Homo sapiens: one gene and its partners. The protein of the gene in region 2 purifies or fractionates together with the protein of the main gene of each other region. This does not show direct contact. Each region holds a gene or a part of one and is shown on either strand. Other genes may lie near its edges.

Evidence for each region. Proteins that work in one complex are often made in the same cells at the same time.
Region 1: the proteins of USP8 (region 2) and KRT85 purify together in Homo sapiens (affinity purification with mass spectrometry; one large-scale study listed by BioGRID and IntAct). This does not show direct contact.
Region 3: the proteins of USP8 (region 2) and GJA1 purify together in Homo sapiens (affinity purification with western blotting; one study listed by BioGRID). This does not show direct contact.
Region 4: the proteins of USP8 (region 2) and USP22 purify together in Homo sapiens (affinity purification with mass spectrometry; one large-scale study listed by BioGRID and IntAct). This does not show direct contact.

The regions. Positions count from the first base shown.
Region 1 is NC_000012.12:52,359,506-52,361,993, reverse strand, and holds the end of KRT85 (keratin, type II cuticular Hb5), read left to right. Parts: intron 1-495; coding exon 496-527; intron 528-947; coding exon 948-1,141; 3' UTR 1,142-1,988; downstream 1,989-2,488.
Region 2 is NC_000015.10:50,476,405-50,479,904, reverse strand, and holds part of USP8 (ubiquitin carboxyl-terminal hydrolase 8), read right to left. Parts: intron 3,057-3,500; coding exon 2,912-3,056; intron 2,630-2,911; coding exon 2,406-2,629; intron 1-2,405. UniProt on the Homo sapiens protein: Hydrolase that can remove conjugated ubiquitin from proteins and therefore plays an important regulatory role at the level of protein turnover by preventing degradation. Converts both 'Lys-48' an 'Lys-63'-linked ubiquitin chains.
Region 3 is NC_000006.12:121,442,146-121,445,645, reverse strand, and holds part of GJA1 (gap junction alpha-1 protein), read right to left. Parts: intron 2,030-3,500; exon of another isoform or gene 1,953-2,029; intron 1-1,952. UniProt on the Homo sapiens protein: Gap junction protein that acts as a regulator of bladder capacity. A gap junction consists of a cluster of closely packed pairs of transmembrane channels, the connexons, through which materials of low MW diffuse from one cell to a neighboring cell.
Region 4 is NC_000017.11:21,012,012-21,015,511, forward strand, and holds part of USP22 (ubiquitin carboxyl-terminal hydrolase 22), read right to left. Parts: intron 925-3,500; coding exon 819-924; intron 1-818. UniProt on the Homo sapiens protein: Deubiquitinase that plays a role in several cellular processes including transcriptional regulation, cell cycle progression or innate immunity.

The DNA of each region.
Region 1 (2,488 bases), on a different chromosome or scaffold from region 2:
GTGCCTTTATCATGGCTACGCAGTTAATAAGCAGAAGAGCTGGGACCTGCACCCAAGTCTCATGCCTCCCAAATCCGTCCTTGTTGAATAGCTTCCTACTGAAGCTGCTGCCACACAGGCCTGTGTGTTATGATGATGATGCACTTCTATATGCATTTAGCTCTTCATCAACCACAAAGCCCCTTCACACCCTGGTGTATCTGATTCAACTCTCCTTCCTGTGAGCTTGATTGGCACCATCCAGGCTGGCCACCATCACTCAAACTAGGGGCACTGTTCATAATCTTACCCACTGCTGCTGAAAATCAGAAAGCCTTGTCTTCATGGTTAAAACCATCAAAGAAAGAAAGCATTTAATGCAGATTTGAGGGAGCCCTTCTTGCCTTTCAGGGGTAGACTCTGTACACAGGATGACCCTCTCTGTCCCCAAGCAACCATCAGTCTCAAGGAATCCAACTCAGTGTCTGGAACTAACAGAGTTTTCTTTCTCCATAGGCTGTGTGAAGGTGTGGGCTCTGTGAATGTCTGTGAGTATCTGCCTGAAATTCTCCTGGAAAAATGGCTTTTTTGATAGAAAAGCTGAACTCATTGGCCTAACCCATGGAGCCTCGAGTGTTCCCCCAACTGTTTCACCCTCCCCTGGCTCCTCAGTGGGGGCCATGACAGGTGTTAGAGAAAGCTGAGCTGAGTGCTCTTCGCAAGTGTTGACAGTGAGCTATAGGCCATGGACCTGTGGCCTGGCAGCTTTGCTCCCCGGGGTCCAGGGGTCCTCACTTCCTTCCTGCCCCAGTTCCCTAGATGGGCTGTGCATCTCAGGGACAGGGCCTGCATTGTTGACCACCAATTCCTTGGAGAGGGAGGCAGCTCCTGCAGTGCCCTGGGGCCTGTTGTAGGGTGGGTGAGATTGCAGGGAGCTGCTCACCCCTCCATGTCTCCTCTCTCCACAGGTGTCAGCAGCTCCCGTGGTGGAGTCTCCTGTGGGGGCCTCTCCTACAGCACCACCCCAGGGCGCCAGATCACTTCTGGCCCCTCAGCCATAGGCGGCAGCATCACGGTGGTGGCCCCTGACTCCTGTGCCCCCTGCCAGCCTCGTTCCTCCAGCTTCAGCTGCGGGAGTAGCCGGTCGGTCCGCTTTGCCTAGTAGAGTCATGGAGCCAGGGCTTCCTGCCAAGCACCTGCCTGCCTGCATCACTGCACTGAATGGCATGTGAATGGAAAATGTGTGCTTGCTTCCAGAATCTTCTGGATGTTCCTACAGAGGGAAAGACCTACAGAGGGAAAGACCCTCGGGCCGCTCCCCTGCGCCTTTTCATGCTAGGGAGATGCATCCTAGTTGTCCTCCTGGCAGCTGTTTTCAGAGGCATTCCCAGCCCTTCACTTAACTCCTACTTAGCTCCAAAATACCTGTATCCAATTTGTATTATTCCCCCAGCTCTCAGGGACAAGACCAGTCCCCCAGCGTGGTGGTCAGCACGGAAGCTCCACCTTCTGGGTGGAGGCGCCATCCTAACCATCCAGCCAGGCCACCCACAACCCGAGAATCAGGGAGAAAGTCCCTCCCCAGCAGCCCCCTCCTCCTGGCTGGGAAGAATGGTCCCCCAGCAAGCACTTGCCTGTTCATTCCTGTTCATGTTTTGCTTCTCTCTCAGACTGCCTTCCTGCTTCTGGGCTAACCTGTTCCAGCCAGGCTCCTCATGTGACCTCGCAGTTGAGAAGCCCATTATCGTGGGGCATCCTTTTGCCTACAGCCCCTGGTTAGGGCACTTTGGACAGGTCTTGCTATTCAGTGAACCTTTGTACATTTCAAAGAAGACTCCATGGCTGCTCCAGATGCCCCCTTGCTGGGTGCAGGTGGGGACTGTCCAATGCAGAGCTGGCGGGACAGAGAGTTAAGCCACTTCCTGGGTCTCCTTCTTGTGACTGTCTATGGGTGCATTGCCTTCTGGGTTGTCTCGATCTGTGTTTCAATAAATGCCGCTGCAATGCAAGAGCGTGTGGTCTTGTGAGCAACTTCTCCACTCCCTTCTTGCCTCATCTCCAGATGACCAATCCCAGTCCAGCCCCATGCAGTGTTTCCCCAGTCACCCCCCAGAAACTCTGCTGCTTCCTGTCCACTTCCACAGTCTGATTCCACTCAGTCGCCCTCAGTCCCCTCAGGCCTGGACTACAGCCCAGCTCCCCACTAATGACCTCTTTCTCCCTGACCCACCCTGCGTACTCCCAGCAGCCAAAACTCCATCCCAAACTCACTGCTCTCACCCTCTCCTGCCTGGCTCAAGTCACTTCCTGGCACATGTGTGTGCTTCTTATGCCAAATGCAGGCTTCCTCTGTCACCTCCTTCCCCAGCTACTCCTCAGCCCTGTCCAACCCCTCCATGCGGTGCTCATCCTCCCAGTCATGGACTCCACCCCAAGGAGACAAGTCTACCCTCTGAGGCAGCCCAGAGACACTCTCTCCTACATACCCCTTGTGGACACATAGGCCATC
Region 2 (3,500 bases):
TGCCTATAATCCCAGCTACTCAGGAGGCTGAGGTGGGAGGATTGCTTGAACCCAGGAAGTCGAGGCTGCAGTGAGCTGTGATCACGCCACTGCACTCCAGCCTGGGTGAGAGAGTGAGACCGTTTTCAAAAAAAAAAGAAAAGAAAAAGAAAACGAGGTTAGTGTAGAAAAAATAATTTTTTTCCTGTTCACTTCTCTTTCTGCCTCTTAAAAAAAATCCTTTGTCTTTTTTTTTGCATGTATTTGAGAATAAAGTAGGAAGAACCACTATGGGGATGAGGTTAACAATAAGAGGTGGAACAGAAACAAAAATAAATGTTGTTTCCATTTACATTTTGGTGGCTTGATCTATTTTTCCCTAATTTTAAAAGTATAGTTATGATCATGTTACTCTCAAGTTTAAAATTCTTTAATGGTTCCTTGTGCCTACAGGACAAAATTCAAATTTGATCCAAGTCTCTCTTGATGACTCTTGTCCATCCTTCTAATCTTATCTACTATCATAACTTCCTCTCTCCAACAGAGACTAGCGCCCACATATGCCAAAACTGTTCACTGGCCCCAGAGCATGCCCTATGCCTTTGGTCATAGAATTTTCTACTTGTTTCTTCTATCCTCCAATCCTACTCTTAAAGCCCAGATAAAATACTGTCTCCTCCATGAAGACGTCCTTGATCTTCTCAGCTAGAATATTCTCCTTGCTCTGTGCTCCAGTGCCTTGTAGAGCAATTATGATATTCTGCCTTATGCTGTGGCTGATTTTATACAGATCTCTCCTTCCAAACATCAGAAGAACCCATCTCTTGTATATACAAACTTTCATGCTGTCTTATTTTTATTTTTATTTTTTTTTGAGACAGAGTCTCACTCTCACCCAGGCTGGAGTGCAGTGGCCTGATCTCGGCTCACTACAACTCTGCTTCCTGGGTTCATGTGATTCTCCTGCCTCAGCCTCCTGAGTAGCTGGGACTGCAGGCACGCACCACCACGCCTGGCTAATTTTGGTATTTTCAGTAGAGATGGGGTTTCACCATGTTGACCAGGCTGGTCTGGAACTCCTGACCTCAGGTGACCCACCTGCCTCCGCCTCCTAAAGTGTTGGGATTACAGGCACGAGCCATGGCACCCAGCCCTCATGCTGTTTTTTATATAGAAGATCTTCAAAATATGTCTGAAAATTGTACGTATCTCATAAAGTTATGTTGGGACACAAAAGGATTAGCGTTTAAATAGATTAAGTTGAAAGGAAATGCAATAACATAGAGAAGCTCTTTTTAGACTTTCCTAAATTCACCCTTTAAGAAAAGTTGTTTAATCACATCTATTTAGTCTGCAATTTATTCTGCAATACTAAAAGACCTTAAAAAAATGAAGAAATGAACCACTTCAGTTTATAACAAAAAATTACCAGATTTTCTATTCAATACCTGCTCCACAAATCAAACGTCATCCACTTTAAATGTGAAATACTGTTTTAAATATATCTGGGGAAAAAATTAAAAATGAATGCTAAAAAATGTTATTGGGAAATGCATGGAGGGGGAACATTAGTTAACCTTTCTTTAAATAAAGCCAAATGAAGGATATAAAAACTAAAATTTTTTTATTTGTAATGTCTTGGTTATTTAAAAACTTTTACATGATTATTGTTAAACATGCCTGTTATTTGCGTGTCAAATTCTAAGGAAATGAAACTAAAGCACTGTTTTAAAACCAAAATACTGACATCACATACCTATCATATGTAAGCCAAGCTATTTATGAAAATAATATGGGTCAAATTATAATACAAAAAATCCCAAAAGGGCTATTCTAATTCACTGTGATAATGCAATCTTTCATTGGCATTGTTTGTAGCAAATGGATCGCCAACTGGCTTGGAAACCCCTTAATTATCTACTCTAATATAGGCGTGGCGGTAATGCTGAATTATGATGAAAAATTTTTAAACAAAAAATTTATCAAAACATACAGACTGTTCTCATCGATACTTTTTTCTAAGATGTTAAAGGTTATATATTAAACTTCGTTTCTATACTATGTATTTAATTCTTTTTTTTTTTTTTGAGACAGAGTCTTGCTGTCACCCAGGCTGGGGTGCAGTGGTGCAATCTCGACTCACTGCAACCTCCGCTTCCTGGGTTCAGACAATTCTCATGCCTCAGCCTCCCAAACAGCTGGATTTATAGGCACCCACCACCATGCCCAGCTAATTTTTGTATTATTAGTAGAGAGGGGGGTTTCACCATGTTGGCCAGGTTGGTCTCAAACTCCTGACCTCAGGTGATCTGCCCCTCTCAGCCTCCCAAAGTGCTGGGATTACAGGCGTGAGGCACTGTGCCCAGCTATACTATATATTTAATATTAAAACAAAAGCGAGAATAATGTTAAAATCAAGAACATACCTGTGGAACATTCTTTATACTAGGCACTGGCTGAATTATGGGTGAAACATCAGATTTAGAAGCAGCAACTGGTTCAACTGGAGTTGATATATTCAGTGGTCCCATTCTCTCATTTTGACCACTTATCAATTCTATATTTTCATCTACTTCTATAGATGCAGGTGGCGTCTGGGCAGCAGGTTTAGAAGGAATTGATTCTTCCAATGAGGGATAAGTAAAATCCACTAAAATTCCAAAAATAAAAATGTTTTTTAGAATAGCAAACCCCATACACAGTACTTACATTTCTCATGCGTGTTAATGCAGTAATTAAATGTAAACTAAGTGAAAAAACAATTACAACAGTCTTAAAGAAAATGTGAACTTCCAGGCTTATATTTTTATGCCTGAAAACAAACTGCTCTCTAATAGGACAAATACACACACAACCAAGAATGTTACCGGGAAAACAATTTTAAACCATATTTTACCAAAGCAATTTTAAACAAAAATTTTCACATACATACATGAGATAGACACCTCTTCATTCTGGCGTCGTGGGGGTGGAGTGACCTTAGCATTTGTTGTATACTGGGGATAACAAAGGAGCCAGTTTTCATAGCCTCCCTCTAAAACCAAAGGCTCATTGCGCAGGACAGTTTTACTTTCCCACTATAAATAAGGAAATCATATTTTAAATAGGGCAGCAATCTTTCAACAGCTAAAAACACAACAAATCTAAATTTTAAAGTTGTTCCCTTAAGGACAAAATTTATCTTCTAAATAATGACAAAATGAGAACTGAATTCAAAATTCAACATTAAATGAAATGGTTATATAGGTGAGGTTTTAAAAACCATACAAATAATCAATGATCTTAGAAGAAAAATTAGAAAATAAATTACTAAATATAAAACAAAAATGACCCATAACCTCACCACCCCAATACCACTTTACATTCTGGAGTTTACTCTTATAGAGAGTTTTCAATAAAACCTTTATGATGTTGCTTTTCTATGAACATCTTTCATCACTATAGAGCTATATCATCATTTGCAATGCTAGGTAATATTCGACTACTGGTTGACTGATTGACAAGGTCTCACTCTATCACCC
Region 3 (3,500 bases), on a different chromosome or scaffold from region 2:
ACAAACAAACAAAACCTACTTCAGGGTGTTTTCTCCAGCCAGAAAAGATTGGTTTTCATCTTTCATTGTTATATACTTTAAAGTTCCCTTACTGGGCTTTGGACCCTCAGGCTATACATCCCATTTAACTTCTTATCAATATCTAGCTATCTAAAGTCCACGCCTTCTCCATTACTGAGGATAAGAAAAAGATCTGGCCAGGCGTGGTGGCTCACGCCTATAATGCACTCACGCCTATAAGCACTTTGGGAGGCGGGTGGATCATGAGGTCAGGAGATTCAGACCATCCTGGCTAACATGGTGAAACCCCGTCTCTACAAAAAATACAAGAAATTAGCCAGGTGTGGTGGTGGGAGCCTGTAGTCCCAGCTACTCGGGAGGCTAAGGCAAGAGAATCGCTTGAACCCGGGAGGCGGAGCTTGCAGAGATCACGCCACTGCACTCCAGCCTGGGTGACAAAGAGAGACTCCGTCTCACTAAAAAGATGTAAGTCAGTAGAAACCAACAAGAATCCCCAAAGTTGTCTAGTTCAATTTATGCTTCTAATTGCCGATTATCCATTTAGCTGATAAAAATTGAGGTTCTCAGAGGTTCTCAGGGTATAGGAAATATTTAGCTATAGACAGAGCCAGAAGAAGATTCACAATCCCCGGGCAAGTCTTTTCAATGCCTCACACTGGTTTTAAAAGTACAGTAAGGCTGCGCTAAAGCTAGAAATGTTTCCAGGCTTTGATATACACAACCTTAGCCAGGGCTGAAAGCTGGGAAGAAGTGAGTAACATGATGTGGCAGGCATAGGGAATATAGGCTAATTTTCAGCACATAGTAGTAATTGGAGGATTTAGAAAAGGACAAATTAGTCAAAGATTGTTTAATAATTAAAAACAAGCAAAGCTAAGACTTTGCAGGAGCTTAGTAATGAATTCTAAATAGAGTATCTAAAGGTAGGATTATTTAGGCTTCTTAGAAATATGTTCACTATCTGAATATAAAGGAGTTTCTCTTCTGGTGTTGAACTATTGAGCTGTATCTCCTTGTAGGAAGTAAATGAAATCCAGGGGAGTCTTCTTCCTCAGTAAGCAACATTACATTTCTGTCTAATGACTGCATCTTCTGGCCATAGAGAACAAGAAAAAATGAAATGGGCACCTGACCTGGGATTTCCTGGACCGAACAAAGAAGAGATGGCTGAGCCATAAAGCTAAACTATGCACCAGCTAGATGGTACCACGGTATCATGGGTACATTTGATGACAGCCCAGGGACTAGTGCCAAAGAATGCTGAGTAAGAGTGGGAGGTGGGTGTGAAGGCCACAGAAATAACACTCCCCCAGTGGTCATAAGAAAGGGAGCTTCCCTTTTACTTAGGAAGGGTCATTTTAGATTCTGAAGTGACAAGTTAGGAAGTGAAATTGATGTATGAAAACAGCATCAATTTAAAACAGCAGTCAAATAAGAACAAAGGCTTGAAAGGCTGACAAAGACAGTTGAATAGCCAAGGAAAGGCTTGAAGTGAGGGAGTAATTTAGCCGTGATGGACAGTTTGATGGTGAGAGAATGTGAAAGAAAAAAAAACCCTACAATTTAGCAGAAAATACTAGACTGGAAATGAAGAAGTATAGTCCATGAGGGTCAGACAAACAGAATCTTTGGAGCTATATCAATAGACAGTTTCTATGTGATGATGTGTAAAATTGGCCCTAATTCTGTTTGTAAAAAATTACAGTATTTTGCCAGTGTCATCTGCTTTTGCTCACATATTTCAATTGCTAGGGGAAAAATAACAAAAACAATCAAGTATAAAAAGATAAACTTTGCATACATCTCATCACATTCATGCAACGATAGAGCTGAAGACAAACCTATCATATCTAGAAATATGACCAGGCAGAACAGAAGTTATTTTAGCTAGGATTTCATCATTACTCAAAGTAAAATATGATTGTGTAGATGCTTATAGTAATTCATCACTAAGTTTATTTACATTCTAGTAACAAACTATAGAAATGATCCCTGAAAGTATAGTCTTTATTTACATTCTATAAAAAAATTCATGATACATGACTTTCATATAATTTTGAGATTCTACAAAAACACTCCACAGTTCCATAGTATGTGAACTAAGTCATCAGACAGCTCTTCATTAGTTCTTTTTTAATACTCTAGTAACTTAATTGCAAAGTTGTCTTTTCTTTAAGCACCCATGCAGTTGTCATTTGCATTAATGAGTTATACTCTTTCATCTTAATAAGATACGAATTATCGAATTGGACACCGAGTATCCTGTAACATGTAGCTACCTGTCGATCTCCACTATCATAGATACCATCAAATAATGTTTAATGTGACAGCTGCCCAAAAACAGGTAACAAAAATTGTTCCCTTTTTTTTTGGTAGTTGCTCACTTTGCCATGAATCAAATTTTGGCAACTGGTTGTTCCTCCCTGCTGCACCTTCCCAAACTAGTTTAATATCTTCATTTTTCCAAGTCTTGTATGGTAAGTTAATACCCTCTTATAATAAAAGGGCATAATTATATGTTTACAGAATCCCTGGCATTGATCTACAGACTATAAACTGCACTTTTATTCACCAGGGGGAAACAGGTATATTTCTTATTTGATACATGAGAAGACCAACGCAGCTGGACATATCACATATATTCATGCCTTCACCTCTAGGATACTGAGTTGGTGCTTTATATGTAGACCAAGGTCTGTCTAAGAGGAGTTGTGCAAAGTTCTTGTTAAGAGCAGAGTCTTAGCAGCTGGACCACGCTTTTTGCCGTCTATGCACCATGTTAGATTACATTTCCATTGCTCTTCATGGCCCCCTAGACTGGATGGATGCCCAAAGCTACAGGCACTAAGTGTGACCAGCCTGAGGCTCCTCTGGCCCCTTTCCTGAACTGCATCACAGTCACTTGGCAGCATTTGTTAAAAACATACATTCCTGGTCTTCACCAGTCTGAATGAATCTGAATTTCTGGAGGTGGGGCCTAGGAAGTAAGGTTTTTTTGGTGTTTGTTACTATTCTTGACATTTCTGGCCCTTTCTTGTTCAAAATATTTAGGAGTGGGAGAAATGTCAGGAAAGCAGAAGGAACAGTCTAAAAAATCCAAGGGGCTGAGTACCAGGAGCAGCAGCTCTCTGGGCACCCGGCATTGAGGTCAGCCTTGGCTCCACAGCCCCTTGTCACTCCTTACATCTCCATCTGCAGCTCCCTGAGAGCAGAAGAACTTAAACGCTTTAATTCAAATGAGATCTCTTAAAAATAAAGCTTTGATTTTAAATTACATTTGACTATGCCTTTTGCTAGAGCATGTGCCGAAGTTGCAGTCAAGTCTTTCCATGCCATTAATATACTAATAGTTATTAGAATTAAGTATTTTACTATCGACTTTAAATATTTTTCTCAAGAAGAGACAAATGTAATGAGTTGAGAATGGAGACTTAAATAAAGGTAAATAGGATTATTGAAAACTAAAGTGAAATTTGATA
Region 4 (3,500 bases), on a different chromosome or scaffold from region 2:
GGCAGCACTGGCCTTTCCCGATATTTGCTCGTCTTATGCAGTTTAGAAGTGACAGTCCATTTCGGGTTCTGAAATAATTTCGGTGGATCATGTCCAGGGTTTTTAAACTTCAACTGAAGTAAAGAACAGAGCCAGGCACGGTGGCCCATGCCTGTAGTCCCAGCTACTTGGGAGGCTAAGGAGGGAGGATCGCTTGAGCCCATGGGTTCAAGGCCAGCCTGGGCAACATACACAAGACCCCATGCCTGAAAAAAACAAAAACAAAAACAAAAAACCTGTAGCATGCACTGAGGTTGGGTGAGAGGGTCCCCTGACCTAACAAAGCAATGGATTCTCCCTGCACTCAACACTTGAGGCTCTAAGCAGAGACCACATCTGAGAAGAATTAGGGCCACTACATCAGAAAATGGAACCAGAAACCATAAAATAATGAAAACTAACACACTTCGAAGCACGTAGAAAAACAATCCACCATGCATGATCCACGCCTTCTTGAAGAGGGCTCTTTCACTTGGTCCCTGGTCAAGGACTGTAAGATGCAAAATGGTAGGGGAAGCTTCCAAGAACACACTGCTGGCTGTAGACAACAGCCAAGACCTCAACACGAAGGGCTCGCATCCCGAGGGGACACCTGCCCTACGACCTCCCCAAGAGGAAGCACCCCCACCCCACAACCTTCGCTCTCATGGCGTCTATTAATCATTTATCTCATAGCCTCCTTAAAGACCTCTCAGAGCACACACAGCTCTGGAGACTGGGAGGATGTCAGTACGGCCCCAGAGGGTTTGATATTGCCGAGCACGCAGCCTCTCACTTACTGGCAGACTTGGCAGGTGACGTCTGACTGCAACCCGCCTGTGAAGATCTGGTCTATGATGCAGTTGCAGTGGTTGGGGTTGTTGGCCTTCTTCCCATTGTCATCACCTGGAGACAGACCACGGCTCTGGGATTAGTGTCTCCCCAAATATGGGGAGTCTCTAAGGGAAGAGCAGTTCACCCTGCAGAAGCCTGGGGGAGCCAGGGCCAACGCTTTAAAAGGCCATGTGAGGACACTCCTCATTTTAGCAGAGGGTGTCCTTGTTATTTTAATATGACGAGAAATCACAGCACTTGGATTTTCAATGCTCCTTTTTCTCATTCCCTAACAAGAGCCCCACAGCTTCAGTCTTGCCAAGAAAACCCACCTAATGCCCAGTGACTGAGCAGAATAATCGATTCCCATTATCATATAAAGAATGACTGAATCAATATTGTTCCAGTGAGACAGCTGAACATATGGTGGGCCAGGTACACCCGGGGAAGCCCCAGCAACCTCCCTCCCTGAGTAGGTATCATGGTGCCCCAAGTTCAGAAAGTGACACCGCAGGACACAGGCTGTCCTCATCAGCTAGAGCCCCCAGGGGACAGCGTGTCTTCCAGTCAGTTGCATCTGGAAGTGCCACTCCCACCCTCTCTATTCAATACACACTTCATTCATATCCATGTGTGCAGATCTGTGAAAAAGAAACTTAAGTAGCAGAACTTAATTCGTGTGTGGAATACATATTCTACATAACTTCACTAGACAGTGGGGACAGGGCACGAGGACACCTGTATATACATCACAGTTCAAAGACGTTGAATCATGACAGAGGAATAGAGAAGGGCCACTAAGTCTTCTGAGAGCAGAAGGTTTAAGATTAGAGAGAAAAATGCTTCCCAGAGGGATCTCAAATTCATGGGACAAAATTCAGAGGACAAGAATATCCATACAGGAAGGCGCAAAGAATGATGAACAGAATGGCCAGGCGCGGTGGCTCACGCCTGTAATCCCAGCACTTTGGGAGGCCAAGGCGGGCGGATCACGAGGTTAGGAGACCGAGACCATCCTGGCTAACACGGTGAAACCCCGTCTCTACTAAAAATACAAAAAATTAGCTGGGCATGGTGGCGGGCGCCTGTAGTCCCAGCTACTCAGGAGGCTGAGGCAGAAGAATCACTTGAACCTGGGAGGCGGAGGTTGCAGTGAGCTGAGATCGCACCACTGCACTCCAGCCTGGCGACAGAGCGAGACTCTGACTCAAAAACAAAACAAAACAAAACAAAAGATGAACAGAAAGATGCCGTGAAGGCCACAAGGACAAAATGCACGTAACCAAGGCCATGTGGCCAGGCCACCTCGCTGAACAGCTCTGGCAACCAGGTTTCTAAACAGAAGAACCTTACATTTCTTTTCAGACATTTCCAAGGGAATTCTGTCAGAAGCACGTCAGAGGTCACATTTTGTCATGTGAACATTTAACAGCAATGCATTTTTGAACAAGTGATTTTTAGAACATCTTTCTGCTGCTTACAGAAGGCTCTTCGTTATTCTCACTAGGTGCTTGGGGTAACAGCATAGTCACTTCCACAGTGGCTCTTTCCTCTCTTATAAATCATACTAGGACATGAAATTCTACCTAAGCTACTAAGTAACTTTCCTTTGATTTCTAGGTAAGAATTAAAAGGATCACGTAGTTTTTCAGAGGAAAAAAAGTAAGTACCAAAAGAAAACAGAACCCAAAGTCACATTTGACCAAAACCAGCCATTTTAGCTCAACTGTGGGTTGTTTCTGGGCTGTGATCTCAGAACCCATAGGTTGTACGTAAGCGCCTAGGGCCCGGGTGCACAGCCTTGAGACGGATGAGAAGCGATGGGAAGGCCAGCCCACCAAGCTGTTCAACTCGGTGAACCGTCAGAACAGGACTCTGTTCTCTAAAAGACTCCAAGTTAAAATTAACTGATAGGATATCGGCTACAACTAGCTGTGCCAGCCCAGAGACCACAGGAAACTCACAAGCAGCCAGGTGCCCTGTGACCTGAGCGCATGGGTTCTCAGAGTATGGCATCTGAACCAGCGGCATCAACATCAGCTGGGAACTGATTAAGAGTGAAGAAGCCCCTGCCCCCCACAGATCTGCTGAATCAGAAACGCCAGCACGGGCTTTAGGAAGACCTGCAAGTGACCAGCCCACACTCATCTGAGAATCACCTCTCAGTCTCTCTGCCTGTATGGATAGACTTCAGCTGCAGGTCCCTCACACTGGGATCTCCACCATGAGGAGTGGGGAGGAGCCGATCTTGGCTCAAGTCATTCATTCCCAGCCTCCCACCTCCAGCGCTAAGAGCTGCCCCTGCCAACTACCAACACCACACAACTCTGAAAAATCATCAGGGTACCACCCTGGGGCCAGGCTGTGGGACTATGTTGGGGGAGATGGCCCAGGTCCAATGAGACCCCAAGAGAAGCTTTGCTCGTCCTGTGTCCCAGCTCTCTGGCTATTTCAGAGCAACCATCAGTCCTTTTGGAGAGTCCCCAATGGGAAGGAGACAGTTGGGTGATTAAGTTGTGTTTGGGGGATGTCCAGAAGCCTCAGGCCTGATAACCCACAGGGTCCCAGAAATGCCAGGGCAGGCAGGGGCCTCAAAGCACAGGCCCAAGAGGGCTCCAAGAGTTTGCTGTTCACTGTGATCGGTCACT